Linked DNA regions of Homo sapiens: region 1 is linked to region 2. The links come from fine-mapping of genetic effects on gene expression. A gene starts in region 2. The other region holds a variant in brackets. All regions are shown on one strand. Distances are from middle to middle.

Evidence for each region. PIP is the estimated chance that this variant, and not a neighbour inherited with it, causes the effect.
Region 1: its variant is fine-mapped to the expression of PTGR1 in lymphoblastoid cells (TwinsUK, PIP 0.95).

Annotation. Positions count from the first base shown.
Region 1 is chr9:111,873,345-111,884,528 of GRCh38, forward strand. No RefSeq gene overlaps it. Among named protein-coding and RNA genes, the nearest start is that of UGCG, 18 kb to the right of the region's middle. RefSeq lists an enhancer at 1,471-2,321. The variant C/CA (reference allele first, on the strand shown) is at 5,363.
Region 2 is chr9:111,595,418-111,604,009 of GRCh38, forward strand. It overlaps PTGR1 (prostaglandin reductase 1), which reads right to left and starts at 4,230. Exons shown (of 10, transcript NM_001146108.2): 1 at 4,186-4,230; 2 at 1,900-2,015. The coding sequence starts at 2,005. It also overlaps the pseudogene LRRC37A5P. RefSeq lists an enhancer at 4,081-4,653.

The sequences.
Region 1 (11,184 bases), 280 kb after region 2:
ACAGTGTGAAAACAGACTAATATAGTATCTCATTTCTTAAAAGAAAACAAAAATCTTCCTGGACTCTATTCCCTTTTTATATAGCTCCTTGTTTATCTGTTCCCCATCAGAGCACTCAAAAATGTTATCTATATCCACTCCACAAAAGGTGAAACCACTTGTTCAAGGTTGCTAATGGCCTCCTTGTTGCCGAATCTAAGGGTCAATTCTCAGGACTTATTTTATTGCACCTCTCACCAAAATTCGATATAATTAGTCATGTCCTTCCCTTTTACTCCTTTTTTCACTTGGCTTCCATGACTCTGAAGTCTTCTGGTTTTCCTCCCATGGCACTGGTTATTCCATCTCAGTTTCCTATGTTAATCCATTTTGTTAGTTTCTAAACAGCTGTGTTTAAGTGCCTTAGCGTTCAGTCTGAGACCTCTTCTTTATCAACACTGATGGCATTAACAATCTGTTTTTTATCCACACTTTATTGGTGGGATGGCTTTTTAATCTTTTGGGTCTATGGATAGAATGGTATTTCAATATAATTGACTTCCTTTTTGTACCAGTCCGTTCTTGCACTGCTATAAAGAAATACCTAATCTGGGTAATTTATAAAAAAAAAAAAAGAGGTTTAATTGGCTCATGGTTCTGCAGGCTATACAGGAAGCATGACTGGGGAGGCTTGGACAGCTTCCCTCCCACATCTGGCACCCTGGCAGTGATGGCTGGAAAGCTGGGTTTATCTGGGACAATTGACTGAAATACCTATGGATCCTCTCCAGCCTGGTGATCTCAGAGAGGTAAGATTTCTTTTTTTTTTTTCTGAGACGGAGTCTCGCACTGTCACTCGGGCTTGAGAGTAATGATGCAATCTCGGCTCACTGCAACCTCCTGAATAGCTGGGATTACAGGTGCCTGCCACCATGCCCGGCTAATTTTTTGTATTTTTACTAGAGACAGGGTTTCACTATGTTGGCCAGGTTGATCTCGAACTCCTGACCTCGTGATCTGCCCGCCTTGGCCTCCCAAAGTGCTAGGATTATAGATGTGAGCCACCACGCCCAGCTGAGAGGTAAGATTTCTTATGTGGGAGCTCAGGGCACCCAGAGTGTTCCAAGAGGCCTGGGTAGAAACAGCAAGGCTTCTCATGGCCTAACCCTAGGTGTCCCAGATTGTCATTTTTACCCGTTTGTAGGTCAAGCAAGTCATTAAATCAACCCAGATTCAAGAGGAGGGAAATTAGACACCACCTCTCAAAGGGAAGGGAAACAAAGCTCTATGGCCATCTTTAATCTACCACAGATGCCTAATAGGTGTCTCATTTGTAACATGTCCAAACAAAACTCTCAATTTCCTCTCTATACCTGCTCCTTTCTGGTGATCACCCTCCCAGTAAATTGGACCGATTGCTCAGGCCCCAATTCTTGGAGTCATCCATGACTGTCCTCTTAGTTCCATACTCTACATTCTATTCATTAGCAAATCCTGTTGGCACCACCTTGAAAATACATCCTCAGTCTGACTGCTCACTCTCTCTACCTCTATTGCTATCACTCTAGTATGACCCACTATCGTTTTTTTCCTGGACTACTTTCATAGTTTCCCAACCGGATTATCAGCTACCACTCTTGACCTCATGACTCCTCCACACAACAGCCTCAGAGATCCATTTATTTATTTATTTTTGAGACAGGGTCTTGCTTTGTTGCCCAGGCTGGAGTACAGTGGTGTGATCACAGCTCACTGCAGCCTCAATCTCCCCAGGCTCAGGCAATCCTCCCACATCAGCCTCCTGAGTAGCTGGGACTACAGACACGTGCCACCAAACCCAGCTTATTTTTGTATTTTTTGTAGAGACAGGGTTTGTAGGTCTCTGGCCTAGAGCAGTGGTAATGAGGATTGAAGAGCCAAAGTGAATTCCAAAGCTATCCCAGTGATAGGGCAAATTATTTAAATAAGACCCTCTTTTCTGTGGGGAAAAGAGAGATCAGACTGTTACTGTGTCTATGTAGAAAGAAGTAGACATAAGAGACTCCATTTTGTTCTGTACTAAGAAAAATTCTTTTGCCTTGAGATGCTGTTAATCTGTAACCCTACCCCCAACCCTGTGCTTGCAGAGACATGTGCTGTGTCAACTCAAGGTTTAATGGATTTAGGGCTATGCAGAATGTGCTTTGTTAAACAAATGCTTGAAGGCAGCATGCTTGTTAAAAGTCATCACCACTCCCTACTCTCAAGTACCCAGGGACACAAAACACTGTGGAAGGCCACAGGGACCTCTGCCTAGGAAAGCCAGGTATTTTCCAAGGTTTCTCCCCATGTGATAGTCTGAAATATGGCCTCGTGGGAAGGGAAAGACCTGACCGTCCCCTAGCCTGACACCCATAAAGGGTCTGTGCTAGGAAGGATTAGTAAAAGAGGAAGGCCTCTTTGCAGTTGAGGTAAGAGGAAGGCATCTGTCTCCTGCTCATCCCTGGGCAATGGAATGTCTTGGTGTAAAACCCGATTGTATATTCCATCTACTGAGATAGGAGGAAACCGCCTTAGGGCTGCAGGTGAGACATGCTGGTGGCAATACTGCTCTTTAAGGCATTGAGATGTTTATGTATATGCACATCAAAAGCACAGCACTTTTTTCTTTGCCTTGTTTATGATGCAGAGACATTTGTTCACATGTTTTCCTGCTGACCTTCTCCCCACTATTACCCTATTGTCCTGCCACATCCCTCTCTCCAAGATGGTAGAGATAATGATCAATAAATAGTGAGGTAACTCAGAGACTGGTGCTGGCGCAGGTCCTCCGTATGCTGAGTGCCCATCCCCTGGGCCCACTTTCCTTTCTCTATACTTTGTCTCTGTGTCTCTTTTGTTTCTCAAGTCTCTCGTTCCACCTGACGAGAAACACCCACAGGTGTGGAGGGGCAGGCTACCCCTTCACTTTCCACTCTCACTTTCCAAATTCCAAAAATGCAAGAGTTTTAGGTACATTTACAAGCTGCCCTGTCATCCATTGCCCAGGCTGGTCTCAAATTCCTGGGCTCAAGTGAGTCACTCGCCTTCGTCTTCCAAGAGATCCTTTTAAATGTAAGTCAAATCATGTCATCAATGTGCTTATAATGTTCCAGTGGCTTCATATCTCAAAGTAGAATCCAAAATTCTTACGAGGACTTTCATAACTTAATAATATCTAAATCCTGGCCACTATTCTGACCTTATTTCCTACCTTTCTTCCCTTCATTCACTCCAGTCCAGCCCCACTGGCTTATCTGTTCTTCCTCAAAGAAGCCAAATGTGCTCTTCCACAAGGCCGTTGCACTTGGCACTTCTCACTACACGGAATGCCCCTTCCTTACATATTTGTGTGGCTTAATCCCCTATTTTATTGAGGTCTTTGTTCAAATGTCATTTATTTAGAGAAGCCCTGTTTATCACTGCAGCACCCATATTTACTCTTTTTTTTTTTTTTTTTTTTTTTGAGACAAGGTCTCCCTCTGTCTCCCAGGCTGGAGTGCAGTGGCATGATTATGGCTCACTGTAGCCTCGACCTGCTGGGCTTAAGCAAGCCTCCCACCGCAGCTTTCCAAGTAGCCAGGACAACAGGCACACGCCACCACGTCCAGCTAATTTTTAAAATGTTTATACAGACAGAGTCTCACCATGTTGCCCAGGCTGGTCTTGAAATCCTGAGCTCAAGTGATCCTCCCACCTTGGCCTCCAAAGGGGCTAGGATTACAGGTGTGAGCCACCACATCTGGGCCACATTTACTCTGTATCCCCTCTATCACACTATCCTATGCATTTATTTTTTTAATACCTGCCTGCTGCATTAGAATATAAGTTCCATGAAAGCAGAAACTTAGTCTTATTTGCTACTATTTCCCCATCCCTCAAAACAGTGCCTATCACATAATAGGTGTTCAATAAATGTTTGTTGAATAAATGAATAAATGTGTTTAGTCTACCTATTGGGTGCTTCAACACTAGGAGCCAAAAGAGAATGTTTACTAAAACCTTGGGGGTAATTTGGTTCACTGTGGAATAGCACCTTCACCAATATTAATCATGATGTGGTTCAATTGCAAATCAAAGGAATGCATACAGTTTTTGAATCTGCCTCTCATTCATTCTCTCTGCGGGATCTAATAATAGTCCCTCTTGGAATAGCTGTGAATTGCTGAACAATGCAAGTACTTTATTTTTATTCCTTCTTTAGAATATTAGGTTATTTCCTACCTCTTTCTTGCATGCACATTTTATAGCCTTCTGACAGGAATCAGTTCTACTGATAAATGTGTGTACCTAGCAAAGGCTAGTTAATGATATAAATCATAGAGTAAATCAAGACCCATGTACCAGATAAATTGGCCAAGGTGATGGAAGGGCATAAAAGTGAGAAGAGATTAGGAAAGGCACTGTAAGATAGGAGCTTATAAATGCTAGTGAATGTTTACCTTTTTTAGTTGGTCTTAAGTTAGGACGTAGCCTGCTTCCAATTGCACCACATAGGCTAAGTGGTCAATAAAATATCTCGAGTTAACATAAAAATATAAAGTTCTATCTTTCTTTTTTTTTTTTTTTGAGACAGAGTCTCATTTTGTCACCCAGGCTGGAGTGCAGTGGCACGATCTAGGCTCACTGCAACTGCTGCCTCCTGGTTTCAAGTGATTCACCTGCCTCAGCCTCCCAGTTTCAAGTGATTCTCCTGCCTCAGCTTCCCAAGTAGCTGAGATTACAGGCACGTGCCATCATGCCTGGCTAACGTTTATATTTTTGGTAGAGACAGGATTTCACCATGTTGGCCAGGCTGGTCTTGAGCTCCTGACCTGAACTGATCCACCCACCTCAGCCTCCCAAAGTGCTGGGATTATAGGCATGAGCCACCATGCCCAGCCTAAATTCTGCCTTTTTGGAATGCTAAGGTGCCATAGCTACAGGAGGGATGAAGGATGGAGGGATAAAGAATATGTACTAGTGTAGGAATAAGTGGAGCACTGGTGACAACTCTGAGAAAGTAAAAAAACAAACAGAAAAAGTTCTTGCAAAATTCTGCTACCTGCCTGGAGGGCAGTAAGAACATTTAGAAAGATATTGCTGCTGGCCGGGAGCAGTGGCTCACGCCTGTAATCCCAGCACTTTGGGAGGCTGAGGTGGGTGGATCATGAGGTCAGGAGATTGAGACCATTATGGCCAACATGATGAAACCCCGTCTCTACTAAAACACAAAAAATTAGCCAGGCATGGTGGTGTGCGCCTGTAGTCCCAGCTACTCGGGAGGCTGAGGCAGGGGAATCGCTTGAACCCGGGAGGTGGAGGTTGCAGTGAGCCGAGATCACACCACTGCACTCCAGCCTGGTGACAGAGCAAGACTCCATCT[C/CA]AAAAAAAAAAAAAAAAAAAAAAAGGAAAGATATTGCTGCTAATCCAGATATGGATGCTGTGATGGCCAGAGCCTTGGCACTCAAAGTGAGATCTGTACACCAGCATGGGCATTGCCTGGGTGCTTATTAAAAATGTGGAATATCAGGCTCCACCCCAGACCCACTGAATTAGAATCTACATTTTGACAAGATTCCCAACTGATTCACATACACAATAAAGTTTGAGAGTCTCTGGCCTAGAGCAGTGGTAATGAGGATTGAGGAGCCAAAGTGAATTCTAAAGTTGTCTCAGTCTCAGTACTACGGCAAATTATTGAGATAAGACTTTCCTTTCTACTCTCACTTTCCAGGTTCCAAAAAGGAAGGGTTTAGGTCCACTTACTAGCCATTTGACCTTGGATAAATTATTAACTCCCCTATGCTTCATTAATATGGCTCTGTTGTCACTAAGGTATCCAAAAAACTCTAACTGCTGACTCTATGAATTATTTGTAATCCTCCTCCTCTTGCACTGCCCGGTCAAGTGGTCATACAGTTCATTTGAATTTTTATGTATTTGATCTACCCTATTGTAAAGTTAACAAATTACTGGGGAGTAAATACTAAGACTAATGATGGTTCCAACAGGGCCCCGCTTCTAGCTGTGAGGAATGAGACGTTTGCCTCCCTTGGAACAAAGCTCTATAAATAGGTAATCTAACTGGAAAATTGCTCAACAAATGTATTAATTATGCTTAATGCTTGCATATAGAATAAATTTGGTGGAAATCACTAATGTACCAAAGGAGTAGCATCCTAGGTCATATAAGAACTAGTTCCTCTTCCCTTAGCATAGTGGCTTCGAACAAGTAGAAAATCATCATCGCCATTATTTTTAACCCTTAGGATAACTTTCCAAAGGCCCATTCATCCTCAGTGTGGAAATGGTGAGACTAAAGGGCTGACAAAACTAAAAATAAACAGAGCAGATTTTAAACTTAATTGATGATGGCTTCCAAGGACTTTAAAAAACTCAGGTGTCTCAAGGAAAAAGCTTGTCCTCATTTCTTATCAATGGATGACTAATCATTTTGAACCATTTTTATTTTAACCATTTTCAACTCTCTTTATCTACAATTTGTCCCCACCTTATGCCTAGTTTAACACAACTGCCAGTGAATTCTAGGGAGGATAAAAACACTTTATGGCAAGCAAAAGCTGGAAGGCAGCACTTGAGAATGAATGGCAGATGAAGAAATTCTGAAAATCCTCTCCTCCATATAAGCAATGTGAACACTTTGCAAAAATTGTCAAAATTAACTTTTCTCAGAACTCTGGAAATTAACAAAAGATCTACAACTATCTGAGAAGCTTTTATTCAAGAAAAATGGTTGAGGCTGGGCACAGTGGCTCACACCTATAGTCCCAGTACTTTGGGAGGCCAAGGAGGGTGGATCACCTGAGGTCAGGAGTTTGAGACCAGCCTGACCAATATGGTGAAACCCCATCTCTACTAAAAATACAAAAATTAGCTGGGCATGATGGCGGGCACCTGTAACCCCAGCTACTTGGGAGGGTGAGGCAGGAGAATCGATTGAACCCGGGAGGCAGAGGTTGCAGTGAGCCAAGGTCATGCCATTGCACTCCAGCTTGGGTGACAGAGTGAGACTCCATCTCAAAAAAAAAAAAGAAAAGAAAAGAAAAAGAAAAAGAAAAATGGTTGCATCTAGGTAAAAACAGTGAGCTTTGTGGAATTTCCATGTGCCCTATTTCCATACTTTGAAGTAGATGGAAACAAAACTACAGTTTACCAAAATTCATGGTATATAGTTAAATCAGTGCAGAAAGAAGTTTATAGCTATAAACGCCTATATTTTAAAGAAGAAAAAATATCAAATGAATAAATTAAACTTCCACCTTAAAAAACTGGAGCAAAAGAGCAAGCTAAGCTCAGCATAAGCAGCAGTAGGAAAATAATAAAAATTAAAGTAGAAATAAATGAAATAGAAAAGAGAAAAACAATACAGAAAATCAATGTAACCAAAAGTTTGTTCTTTGAAAATATCAACAAGATAAATATTTAGTTAGACTGACCAAAAGAAAAAAAGAGAAGAATAAAATTACTAAAATCAGCAATGAAAGAGGAAACTTTATGACCAAATGGAAATAAAAGGAATTACAATGGGATACTACGACAACTGTTTGTCCACAAATTAGATAACTTCCGTGAAATGGATCGCTTCCTAGAAAGACACAAACTACTGAAACTGGTTCAAGAAGAAAGAGAATATCTGAATAGACCTATAATAAGTCAAGACATTGAAATAGTATTAAAAAAGAAATTTACCCAAAAGAAAAGCCCAAGCCCAGATGCCTTCCATATTGAATTCTACCAAGCATTTAAAAATAGAAGAATTAATACAAATTCTTCAAAAACTTTCTAAAAAATAGAAGAAAAGGGAACATTTCTCAACTATTCTATAAAGCTAGTATTACCCTGATACCAAAACTGAAGACATTGCAAGAAAATAAAATTATAGACCAACATCTCTTATAAATATAGGCGCAAAAATCTTCAATGAATATTAGCAAACTGAATCCAGCAACATATAAAAAGAATTATACAATATGACCAGGTGGGATTTGTTCCAGGAATGCAAGGTTGGTTTAGCTTCTGAAAATCAAGCAATATAATACACTGTATTAGTAGAATAAGAAACTGTATGATCATCTCAATAGACACAGAAAAATCTTGTGACAAAATTCAACACCCTTTTATGATAAAAACACTCAACAATTGAGGAATATAAGGGAACTTCCTCAACCTGATAAGGGGCATCTATGAAAAACGCATAGCCAACAACATAATTAATGGTGAAAGATTGAAAGCTTTCCCCCTTATAAGTGGGAACAGGTCAATGATGTCTGCTCTTACCACTTCTATTTACATTATACTGGAAGTTCTAGCTGGGGGCAATTGGGTAAGGAAAATAAATAAAAACACCCAGATTGGAAGGAGAGAAGTAAAAATACTTATATTTAAAGATAACATGATCTTATACACAGAAAATCTTAATGAATACACACACACACACACACACACACACACACACACACACACAAGCTATTGGAATAAGCAAGTCAGCAAGGCTGTAAGATACAAGATCAATATACAAAATTCAATTGTATTTCTATACATTTGCAATGAACAATCCAAAGGTAAAATTAAGAAGATAATTTAATTTACAATAACATCAAAGAGGCCAGGTGCAGTGGCTCATGCATGTAATCCCATTACTTTGGGAAGCCAAGGTGAGGAGATTGCTTGAGTCCAGGAGTTCAAGACCAGCCTAGGCAACACAGCAAGACCCATCCCTAAAAAAAATTAAAAAAAATTAGCCAAACACAGTGGTGCACACCTGTAGTGCCTGCTACTTGGCAGGCTAAGGCAGGAGAATCACTTGAGCCAGGGAAATTGAGGCTGCAGTGAGTCATGGTCACACCACTGCACTCCAGCCTTGGTGACAGAATGAGACTCTGCTCTCAAAAACAAAAACAAACAAAAGCATGCAACAGCATGAAAGAGAATAAAATACCTGGAAATAAATTTAAGAAAAGAACTTCAAGACCCGTACACTGAAAACTAGAAAGCATTGCTAACTGAAATTAAAGACATAAATATATGGGAAGCCATCCCATGTTCATGGGTCAGAAGGCTTATTAAGATGGTAATACCTGCCGGGTGTGGTGGCTCACACCTGTAATCCCAGCACATTGGGAGACTAAGGTGGGCAGATCATTTGAGGTCAAGAGTTTGAGACTAGCCTGGCCGACATTGTGAAACACCGTCTCTACTACAAATACAAAAATTAGCTGGGCATGGTGGTGGGTTCCTGTAGTCCCAGCTACTTGGGATGCTGAGGCAGGGGAATTGCTTGAACCTGGGAGGCAGAGGCTGCAGTGAGCTGAGATCGCACCACTGCACTCCAGCCTGGGCGACAGAGTGAGACTCTGTCTCAAAAAAAAAAAAGGTGGCAATAGCATCCAAATTGATCTACCGATTTAATGCAACCTCTATCAAAATCTCAGCTTTTCTTTTTCAGAAATTAACAAGCTGACCATGAAATTCACATTGAAACTCAAGAGACACAGATGGGCTGGGCATGGTGGCTCACGCCTGTAATCCCAGCACTTTGAGAGCCCAAGGCAGACTGATCACGAGGTCAGGGGTTCAAGACCAGACTGACCAACCCTGTCTCTACTAAAAATACAAAAATTAGCCGGTCATGGTGGCGCATGCCTGTAATTCTAGCTACTCAGGAGGCTGAGGCAGGAGAATCGCTTGAACCTGGGAGGCAGAGGTTGCGTGAGCTGAGATTGCACCACTGCACTCCAGTCTGGGTAAGAGCGAGACTCTGCCTTAGGAAAAAAAAAAAAAAAGACACAGAAAAATCAAAAACAATCTTGAAAAAGAACAAAGTTCTCACGCTTCCCAGTTTCAAAGTTACAAAGTTACTACAAATTGACAATAATCAAGACCATGTGGTACTGACATAAGGATAGACATGCAGATGAATGAATGAGAGTCCAGAAATAAATCTATACGTCTGTAGTCAATTTTTGACAATGATGTTGACATCATTCAATGTTCTCAGCACCATTGTCAAAAGAATCCTCTTTTCAATAAGTGGTGCTAGGACAACAGGATATTCACGTGCAAAAGAATGAAGATAGACGCCTATCTTACATGATATACAAAACTTAAATCAAACTGGATCAACGACTTAAATACAGGAGCTAAAACTGTACAATTCTTAGAAGAAAACATGGGCATAAACCTTGTGACCTGAGTTAGCCAGTGGTATGTTTGACATGATTCCAAAAAACAAGTGACAAAACAAAAAATAGATAAATCGGACCATCGAAATACAAAATTTTATGCTTTACTTTGGGAGGCCGAGGTGGGCGGATCACCTGAGGTTGGGAGTTCGAGACCAGCCTGACCAACATGGAGGAACCCTGTCTCTACTAAAGATACAAAATTAGCTGGGCGTGGTGGTGCATGCCTGTAATCCCAGCTACTTGGGAGGCTGAGGCAGGAGACTCACTTGAACCCAGGAGGTGCAAGTTGCCGTGAGCCAAGATCCCGCCACTGCATTCCAGCCTGGGCAACAAAAGCAAAACTCCATCTAAAAAAAAAAAAATTGTGCTTCAAATGACACCATCAAGGAAGGGAAAAGAAAATCCACAGAATGAGGAGCAGTAATTGCTAATCATATACCTGATAAGCAACTTGTACCTAGAATACATAAAACACTCTTGGCTTGTTTTTTGTTTTTGTTTTTGTTTGAGACAGAGTCTTGTGCTGTCCGTTATCCAGCCTGGAGTGCAATAGCACACTCATGGCTCACTTGAGCTTTGACTTCCTAGGCTCAAGTGATCCTCACACCTCAGCCTCCTGAGTACCTGGGACTCCAGGTGTGCACCATCTCACCCAGCTAATTTTTGTATTTTCTGTAGAGATGGAGTTTTACCATGTGGGAGGCTGGACTCGAACTCCTGGGCTAAAGTGATCCACCTGCCTCGGCTTCCCAAAGTGCTGGGATTACAGGCATGAGCCACCATGAGCAGCCCATAAAGTACTCTTACAACTAAATAATAAAAAGATAAAACCACAATTTTAAAAATCAGAAGGATTTTAATAGATATTCCTTCAGAGAATATATACAAATGGTCAATAAGAACATTAAAATATGCTCAACATCATTAGCCATTAAGGAAATACGAATCAATACCACAATGAGAAATCACTTCACACTTACTAAGACAGTTATGACAAATT
Region 2 (8,592 bases):
CAGTGCTCACCATATGGCTTCATCGCCAGCCCCAGTTGGTGTGAGAGAACATGCATTTTGCTGGAGTGACTCTCATGTATTCATTCTTTGGAATTTTGAATTTGAGTCATGGCCATCATAGCTTAGATGGGACTGATCACTTTGTCATGCTACTTGATTGCGTCCCCTTTTCTCAAATGCTTACCTACCTGTAAACACTCCTTAGAGACTCATCTTTATTTATTTATTTTTTTTGAGATGGAGTCTTGCTCTGTCGCCCAGGCTGGAGTGCAGTGGCGCGATCTTGGCTCACTGCAATCTCCACCTCCCGGGTTCATGCTATTCTCCTGCCTCAGCCTCCCAAATAGCTGGGAGTACAGGTGCTCACCACCACACCCAGCTAATTTTTTGTATTTTTAGTAGAGATGGGGTTTCACTGTGTTAGCCAGGATGGTCTCGATCTCCTGACCTTGTGATCTGCCTGCCTCAGCCTCCCAAAGTTCTGGGATTACAGGTGTGAGCCGCCACACCCAGCCGAGACTCATCTTATAGTCTGAACTCTTCGTATAGCTACTGGGCAGTGCTTACCTCACTGCCATCATCAGGCTTATGAGGATAGAGAGGACATCCTCCCCATAGTCTGGTCAAAGCCATGAAGAGTAATGCACTCAAGCATGAATTTCAGTTATCAATGAAAGCAGGGGAATCCTGCCATGTGACATCGAGGATTCACACTGAGAACCCTGGAAAGGTCTTTGTGGCAGATTGCAAAATGGCCACAAATAACTCCCACCCTTGTGTGCTTGTCTCCTTGCCACTTCTCCCATCAAGAAATCTATTTTCTGCCTCTCGAATCTGAGCTTGGTTTTGTGATTTGCTTTGACCATGGGATATTAGCAAACGTGGCACAAGTAGAGGCTTGAAAAGGGCTTGCACAGCGGGGCATGGTGGCTCACACCTTTAATCCCAGCACTTTGGGAGGTCAAGGCGGGCTGATCATCTAAGGTCAGGAGTTCAAGACCAGCCTGGCAAAGATGGGAAACCCCGTCTCTACTAAAAATGCAAACATTAAGGCCGGGCACTGTGGCTCACGCCTGTAATCCCAGCACTTTGGGAGGCCGAGGCAGGTGGATCACCTGAAGTCAGGAGTTCGAGACCAGCCTGGCCAACACAGTGAAACTCCATCTCTACTAAAAATACAAAAAAAAAAAAAAATTAGCCGGGCGTGTTGGTGGGCGCCTGTAATCCCAGCTACTCAGGTGGCTGAGGCAGGGAGAATTGCTTGAACCTGGGAGGCAAAGGTTGCAGTGAGCCGAGATTGCTCCACTGCAATCCAGCCTGGGTGACAGAGCAAGACTCCATCTCAGAAAAAATACAAAAATTAGGGGGGCATGGTGGCGCACACCTGTAATCCCAGCTACTCAGGAGGCTGAGGCAAGAGAATCGCTTGGACCCAGAAGGCAGAGGTTGCAGTGAGCCAAAATCATGCCACTGCACTCCAACCTGGGCAACAGAGCAAGACTCTGTCTCAAAAAAAAAAAAAAAAAAAAAAGAGAAAGTGCTTGCACATTGGAGCTTGCCAACTACTGCTGCTCTAGATCTATGGGGCCACTATAAGAATAGAGCTCAAGCTAGCCTGCTAGAAAGGCCACATAGATGAGAACTAAGGCATGCACCCCAACAGAAAGCCTGCTAATCAGCAGACATGTGAGCAAGGCCCATCCTAAATTAACCATTTACCCCAGATGAGACCTAAGAAGAACCACCCAGCTTAACTCAGCCCAAATTGCCAACCCAAAGAATTGTGAACTAATAAACCGTTGTTGCTTAAAGTCACTAAACTTTGGGGTAGTTTGTTATGCAGCAAAAGCTAACTGATACAGTCCCTTCCAACTCTGAAATATTTTTAGTATGACTTACCTCCATTTTTTAAGGGTGGGAGCTCAGCTGTCTTCAACTCAAAGTCACTATTAGTAGGATAGCCAACAAAGTGCTTCTTCAGGGTCCATGTCTTAGTACGAACCATCCTGAAGCTCCTAGAACACAGTAAATATGTAGTCAACTGCCATGAAGTGACTGCATTCTAACAGTTCTCTAGCCGTCAAACTGAGACCAGACAGCACAATTACAATATCCTCAAATCCCATCATTATCATATCATGCCAACCACATTCATTTAACATTTACTATGTTTCTGGTGCTGTGCTAAGCACTTCATATAGATTACCTCATTTTATCCTTATAACTTCCCTATAAGATAGACATTAGTATCATTGCCAGTGTACGGATGAGGAAACTGAGGTTTAAAGAAATCTTCAAGACAAGGAAAAAATATAAAACAACAAAGAAATTCTTCCCAGCCACTGCTAGGCTAGAGTTTCTCTACGGCACTGAACAGTTACCGGAAGTGCGAATATTCCATTCCGTTTCTCATCTCACATGGAGTGAATTCTAAGAAAAAGCATCAAACACAAAGAACCCAATAGATAGAAGTCCATGCACCTCTTTCAGATGGAAACAGCCACGCATTTCAAGGCAGTCTCAGAACTCCTGAAAACCACCGGAGGGCGCCGCTGCTCCGCCCCATTTTCAGGTGCGTTTTTTTTTTTTTTAAATACTTTTTTTTCTCTCTTTTCTTGTAGAGAGGAGCCTCACTGTGTTGCCTAGGCGATCCGCCCGCCTCGGTCTCCCAAAGTGCTGGGATTACAGGTGTGAACCACTTGCACTCAGCCATCGGGTGCGAATTTTCTTTGGCCCAGTAGGGATTTGAGTTTAAACTCCACACCAAACCGATTTTGAGCTGAAACGCTGCACCAAAGCAAGGGAAGATGATGAAGGCTGCCCCGAGCTGGGGGTTCAGGATGTTCTGCTTGGACTGAACTCTGCCGAATCACTTGGGACCTGCGCCTTCCCGCGGGTGCATCCGCTACAAACAATCCAGTTACGAAACCATTTGGAGCTGCCAGTGATCTCCCCAGCTCCCCTACCGGTGCCGCGGGAGGGGACACGGTGACCTGGAGGGAGCACTCCCGCATTGCGAGGGAGCCAGGGGGGCGGTCTGATCTGCAGCCCGGGGTTGTTCCTTCTTTTCTTTTTTTAAAATTAAGACTTTTTTTGTGACGGAGTCTCGCTCTGTCGCCCAGGCTGAAGTGCAATGGCGCGATCTCAGCTCACTGCAACCTCCGTCTCCCGGGTTCAAGCGGTTCTCCTGTCTCAGCCTCCTGAGTAGCTGGGATTACAGGCGCCCGCCACCACGCCCAGCTAATTTTTGTACTTTTAGTAGAGACGGGGTTTCCCCATGTTGGCCAGACTGGTCTAGAACTCCTGAGCTCAAATGATTCGCCCGCCTCGACCTTCCATAGTGCTGGGATTACAGGCGTGAGCCACCGCGCCAGGCCCTACGTATCATTTTTACGGTGAGACATTTGCAGTTTACTCTGTTATTTCGAAATACACATTATTGGCTCTAGTCACTCTGCTGTGCAACAGATCTCAGAACCTACTCCTCTCGTCTCTGAACTTCGTACCCTTTGGCCAACAAGCCCCCATTCCCCCCCGAACCCGCTCCCAGCCTCTGGCAACCATCATTCTAGTCGTTATTTCTATGAGTTCAACTTCTTTAGAGTTCACACATCTTTGTCCCTTTCCCCAAAAAAGCAACCGCTGGGCTTCCAAACTCGCTACAAGTCCAGAAGCCCTCCTGGAAAGGGTCTGGCCGCAGAGGGGCCAGGTCCCGGGAAAGTCTCGCCCGCCCGAGGAGGGGGCCTGGCGCGGCGCCCGGCCTTTGCCCGCTCGCCCTTTGCTCCCACCCTCGCCTCCCGCCGCCCGCCGCCCGCTTGCCCATTCCCGAATCCCCACCCCGATCTTTCTTCTTCTACCCTCCCCCAGTTGTGCAGTCCAGCAAGTTCCCTGGCCAGCCCCCTCCCGGGTGCAGGAAGCTACCGGGTGTCCCGGGTTGTAACCAAGCTTTCCTATTCCCTCCGGCGCGCGGCTCCAAGCTCTCCAAGGAACTGCGGGGGCGGGAGGCGTCGGGACGTCGGCTCCCAAGATCCTCCGAGTGCAAGACCCAGCGGTCATTTCGACGTAAGGGGAGGAGGTCTAAGAGCAAACCTCCTCCACTGGGGCGTCTAGAAACTTGGCAGGAAGAAAGCAAGGGGGTTAGAGGAGGGAGAAAAGGGAAGGAAAGAAAGCAGGAGGTCTACTTACAGGAGCCCGAAGGTTCCACTGCCTGGGGAAGGCGGCTGGGACTGCGCAGCCGGGCGCCCGGGGTCCGACTTATGACAGGTCCCAAGAGAGGGTGGGGCCACCCCAGGGCGGGGCTGCTTCTTTAGGGTGAGAGCCCGGCCCCGAAAGGGTCACAGGAGGAAAACCAGGGTCCGGGAAATCTGAGTGCGTTTGTGTGTGTGTGTGCGCGTATCTCTGTGTGCCTATGTGCATGTGCGCGCGCGTATGTGTGCATGTGTGCGTGTGTGTGCGTGCGCGCCCGCGCGCCCGTGTGTGTGCGTGTAGGGGGTTAGGGACTCCTGATAGGAAAATTCCTAACAGAGCTTTGTCCAGCTGACACTGGACCTCCGCCTGGGGTCCTAAGTTGGAGCCCGGCGGAAATATGCCCCGTGGGGGAACCAACCGTGGCATCTGCCAAGCAGGCCGGAAGGGTCCAAAGGCAGGGCCTGGGGCGGCCGCAGCCCTAATAAGCCCCCGGTGCTGGCTCCGATCCCTGGGCTCCCCGTCAGCCCTGCCGCTTGCCCGCAGTGCAAGCTTTCGCCCAGGGCTGCGGTGCAGACACCCTGCCTGTCTGTCCCCAGTCCGCCTGCTGAACACCTACTCGCCTTCCACCAGCCAATTCAAGGTCACCTCTGTGAACCCTTGCCAGACTCCCCCAGGCAGGAGTGAGCACTCTTGCCACTGAGGCACCCCACCCATCACACCCTAGCAAACATCAGGCCTTGACCTGGCTTCTGCAAGGAGAGGTGGTCTCAGGCAGGGGTTGAACGTGAAGCTAAGTCGTTGGTATTAGACGACTGCAGGTTCGAAGCCTGCACCTGCCACTTACTAGTGGTGTAGCTTTCAAAGACTTACTTACCTTCTCCTTGCCTCACTCAGTTCAGCCATCTGCAAGATGGGGATAAGAAGAATGCCTAACTTCCAGTCATTGTGAAGATTCAATGTCTTTAATTTATTTATTTAATTTTAATTATTTTGAGGTCTTGCTCTGTCACCCAGGCTGGAGTGCAATGGTGGGCATCATAGCTCATTGCAGCCTTGAACTCCTGGACTCAGGTGATCCTCCTTCAGCCTCCCTAGAAGCTGGGATTACAGGCCCACCACCACACCTGGCTCAATGTCTCTCCTTGTAAGGATACCCGCCATATTGGATTAGAGCCCCACTTGTCAGCCTCCGTTTAACTTAAACACGTCTTTGAAGGCCTTGTCTTCAAATACTGTCAAATGGATTAGGGCTCACTAATATGGCCTCATGTAACCTTAATTACCTCTTTAAAGGCCCTATCTACAAATACAGTTACATTCTGAGTACTGGGACTTGGGGATTTTAACACATGAAATTGGGGAAGACACAGTTCAGCCCATAACAGAGTGTGTGGACCAAGCGTGGTGGACGCATGCCACAGGATATACACAGCATCAGAAGCACTGGGTTCCATGTACATAAAGCAACTTGGATGGACCCTAAAAACACAATGCCGAGAGTTGAATTCTTCACACTAATCAGAGTTGGTGGCACTTTATCCCCACTGGTCTGCCAAATTCTTTCTTTCTCACTCTCTCCCTTCTCATTAATTTATGTAACTTAATATAAAACAAAACTCCATTCCCAGGCTGGGTGCTGTGGCTCATGCCTGTAATCCTAGCACTTTTGGAGTCTGAGACAAAAGGACCACTTGAGGCCAAGCATTCAAGACTTGCGTGGGCAACATAGCTTTAACCTGGGAGGTGGAGGCTGCAGCGAGCTGCGATCGTGGCACTGCACTCTAGACTGGGTGTCTAAGTGAGATCCCGTCTCAAAAGAAAACCAAAAAAACTCAATTTCCTGCTTTTCTCCTCCTACTATAGGTAACTACTGTGATGTATTTGATTTGCATACAGTTTTTTTTTCCATGTTCTTACATAATGTGCACTGTGGTCATATACATTTAATTTATAGAAACGGTATTGGGTTACATATCGCATTCTGCTTCTCTCTTTTTTTTTTCTTTTAAGATAACTTGTTACAGAATCACTGTTTCTTTTGGATATTAGAAGTGTTAATAAAATTGCAGGCATAAAAAGTCTTTGCAAAGTAAGAATAAGAGAAAAAAGTGCCAGAAACACAGAGTGGCTCACATATTTACTCACTTGTCCTTAAATTGAAGATACAGATAAGATTGGGCCGCACCAGGTCAAACAAAATCTGTTTCCCAAACTTGATGACTCAGTCAGTCTCAAAGGCTGCAGCTTGTCAAGTCATGGTGATTAAGTTAAATCACGGCTGTTACATACTCGCACACAGAGAGTTAGAATATGGAATAAAGGATCAAGGAAAAAGATTTTCCTTTGCTTTACCCCAAGACAAAACTCTACTCAATTCAGTTCTCTGATCTTAGGTTTCAATGAGTTCTGATCTAACTGTGGAGGGAACAGTTCACTTAAAACAATAAAGCAGTAACAAACAAGTAATTAAAAAATGCTTTTTTATCAAATAATTCAGATGATACAGATGTGTACGCTATAAAAAGCAAAAGTCATTGTTATCTGTTTGGTGGAAATTTCTTTTGGATTTTTTTTTTGTACTTCAAAAACAGACAGACTTAGTCAGGGGTGGTGGCTCATGCCTATAATCCCAGCACTTTGGGAGGCCAAGGCGGGTGGATCACTTGATGTCAGAAGTTCGAGACCAGCCTGGCCAACATGGTGAAACCCCATCCCTACTAAAACTACAAAAATTAGCTGGGCATGGTGGCGGGCGTCTGTAGTCCCAGCTCCTTGGGAGGCTGAGGCTGGAGAATCACTTGAATACAGGAGGTGGAGGTTGCAGTGAGGCAAGATCATGCCACTGCACTCCAGCCTGGGCGACAGAGCAAGACTCTTTCTCAAAAACAAACAAACAAACAAACAAAAACAGACAGATTTGTCCCCCACTTTTTTCTCTACAACTTCCATTTCATTGGTCTGGTGGGATAATGCTTGAGAAATAATTATAACAACAAACAGTAATATTTGTCTCATAATTGCAGGAATTCCTGAATATATGTGGGACACTGCGTTTGAAGAGATAGTGATTATCCTCTCTGCACAGCACAGAGGAGATGCAATCTTGCACTAGAATAGCCCTTGGTATCCAGTATTTCTAGTCCTCATGATGACCCAAGGAGGGGTCATCAACAGGTTTGCATGCCCACTGCATAGTATAGACCAATTACACTAAGACAGCAGGGATGCAGCAAAGAAAGAGTTTAATGATCACAGGCCACCCAGCAAGGAAGTGGAAGGAAACCCTCAAATCTGTCTCCCAAGAAGTTCTGGCCTGGGGCTTTAAGAGGATTGTGGAGAGTGAGGGGCTGGAAAATTGGGGTTGCTGGTCGGTTGGGGCAAGGGGGATAAAATCATCGCAAAGTGGAAACTGTATTTTTTGATGAGGTAGCTCCTCGGGGAGTCCTTCAGGACAGCTGCATCAGTGTGGTCCTTCAGCTGACATCAGTAGTTTCTTCCATATCAGGACCTGAAGGAATATCTCAAAGTGAAAACAACATTTCATAATGTTCGAGTTGCTATTTAAAGAGCAGTTAAGGTGAACTATAATCTTGTAACTGGGTCTAGTGATTCTAGAACAATAGGCACCAAAGTGTGAGGAAGCAGATGGGAGAGTGTGCCGAGTTAATCATGAATGCTGAACCTGCTGCCAGCTTGGTTTGTTTTTGTTTCTCCCTCCCTCCCTTCTTTCCTGATTAATTTTATGTATTTTTTGAGATGGAGTCTTGCTCTGTCTCCCAGGCTGGGGTGCAGTGGCATGATTTTGGCTCACTGCAACCTCTACCTCCCGGGTTCAAGGAATTCTCCTGTCTCAGCCTCCTGAGTAGCTGGGCCTACAGGCACACACCACCACGCCAGGCTAATTTTTGTATTTTTAGTAGAGACAGAGTTTCACTATATTGGTCAGGCTGGTCGTGAACTCCTGACCTCAGGTGATCCACCCGCCTCAGCCTCCCAAAGTCCTGGGATTACAGGTGTGAGCCACCGTGCCCGGCCTAATTTTATAAAGTTTATAGGGGCAGTTTCAGAAGCAAATATTACCATCATCTTCCTTGGAGCCTCAGGAAACTGAAAGTCTGAGAGGTAAAACAACGTAGACAAGATCACATAGCTAGTCAGTAGCAGGGTTGAGATTTGAATCTCAGTCCATGTCAAAGTCCTACACTTTTGTCTGTTCCATTCACGTTGACAGCCCAATTCTGTTGCTGTTGGGGGTGCCACTATGCCGCGGATCTATTGGACTGAACAAAGGGGGCAAACGCGGGAATAAAAGACAGTAGACAAAAGAGTATATTTGGAAGAAGGAGTCAGGGGGAACCTAGCGTCTAGTGGACAAGGGTCCTGAGCTTTACACAGCCCTCCGTA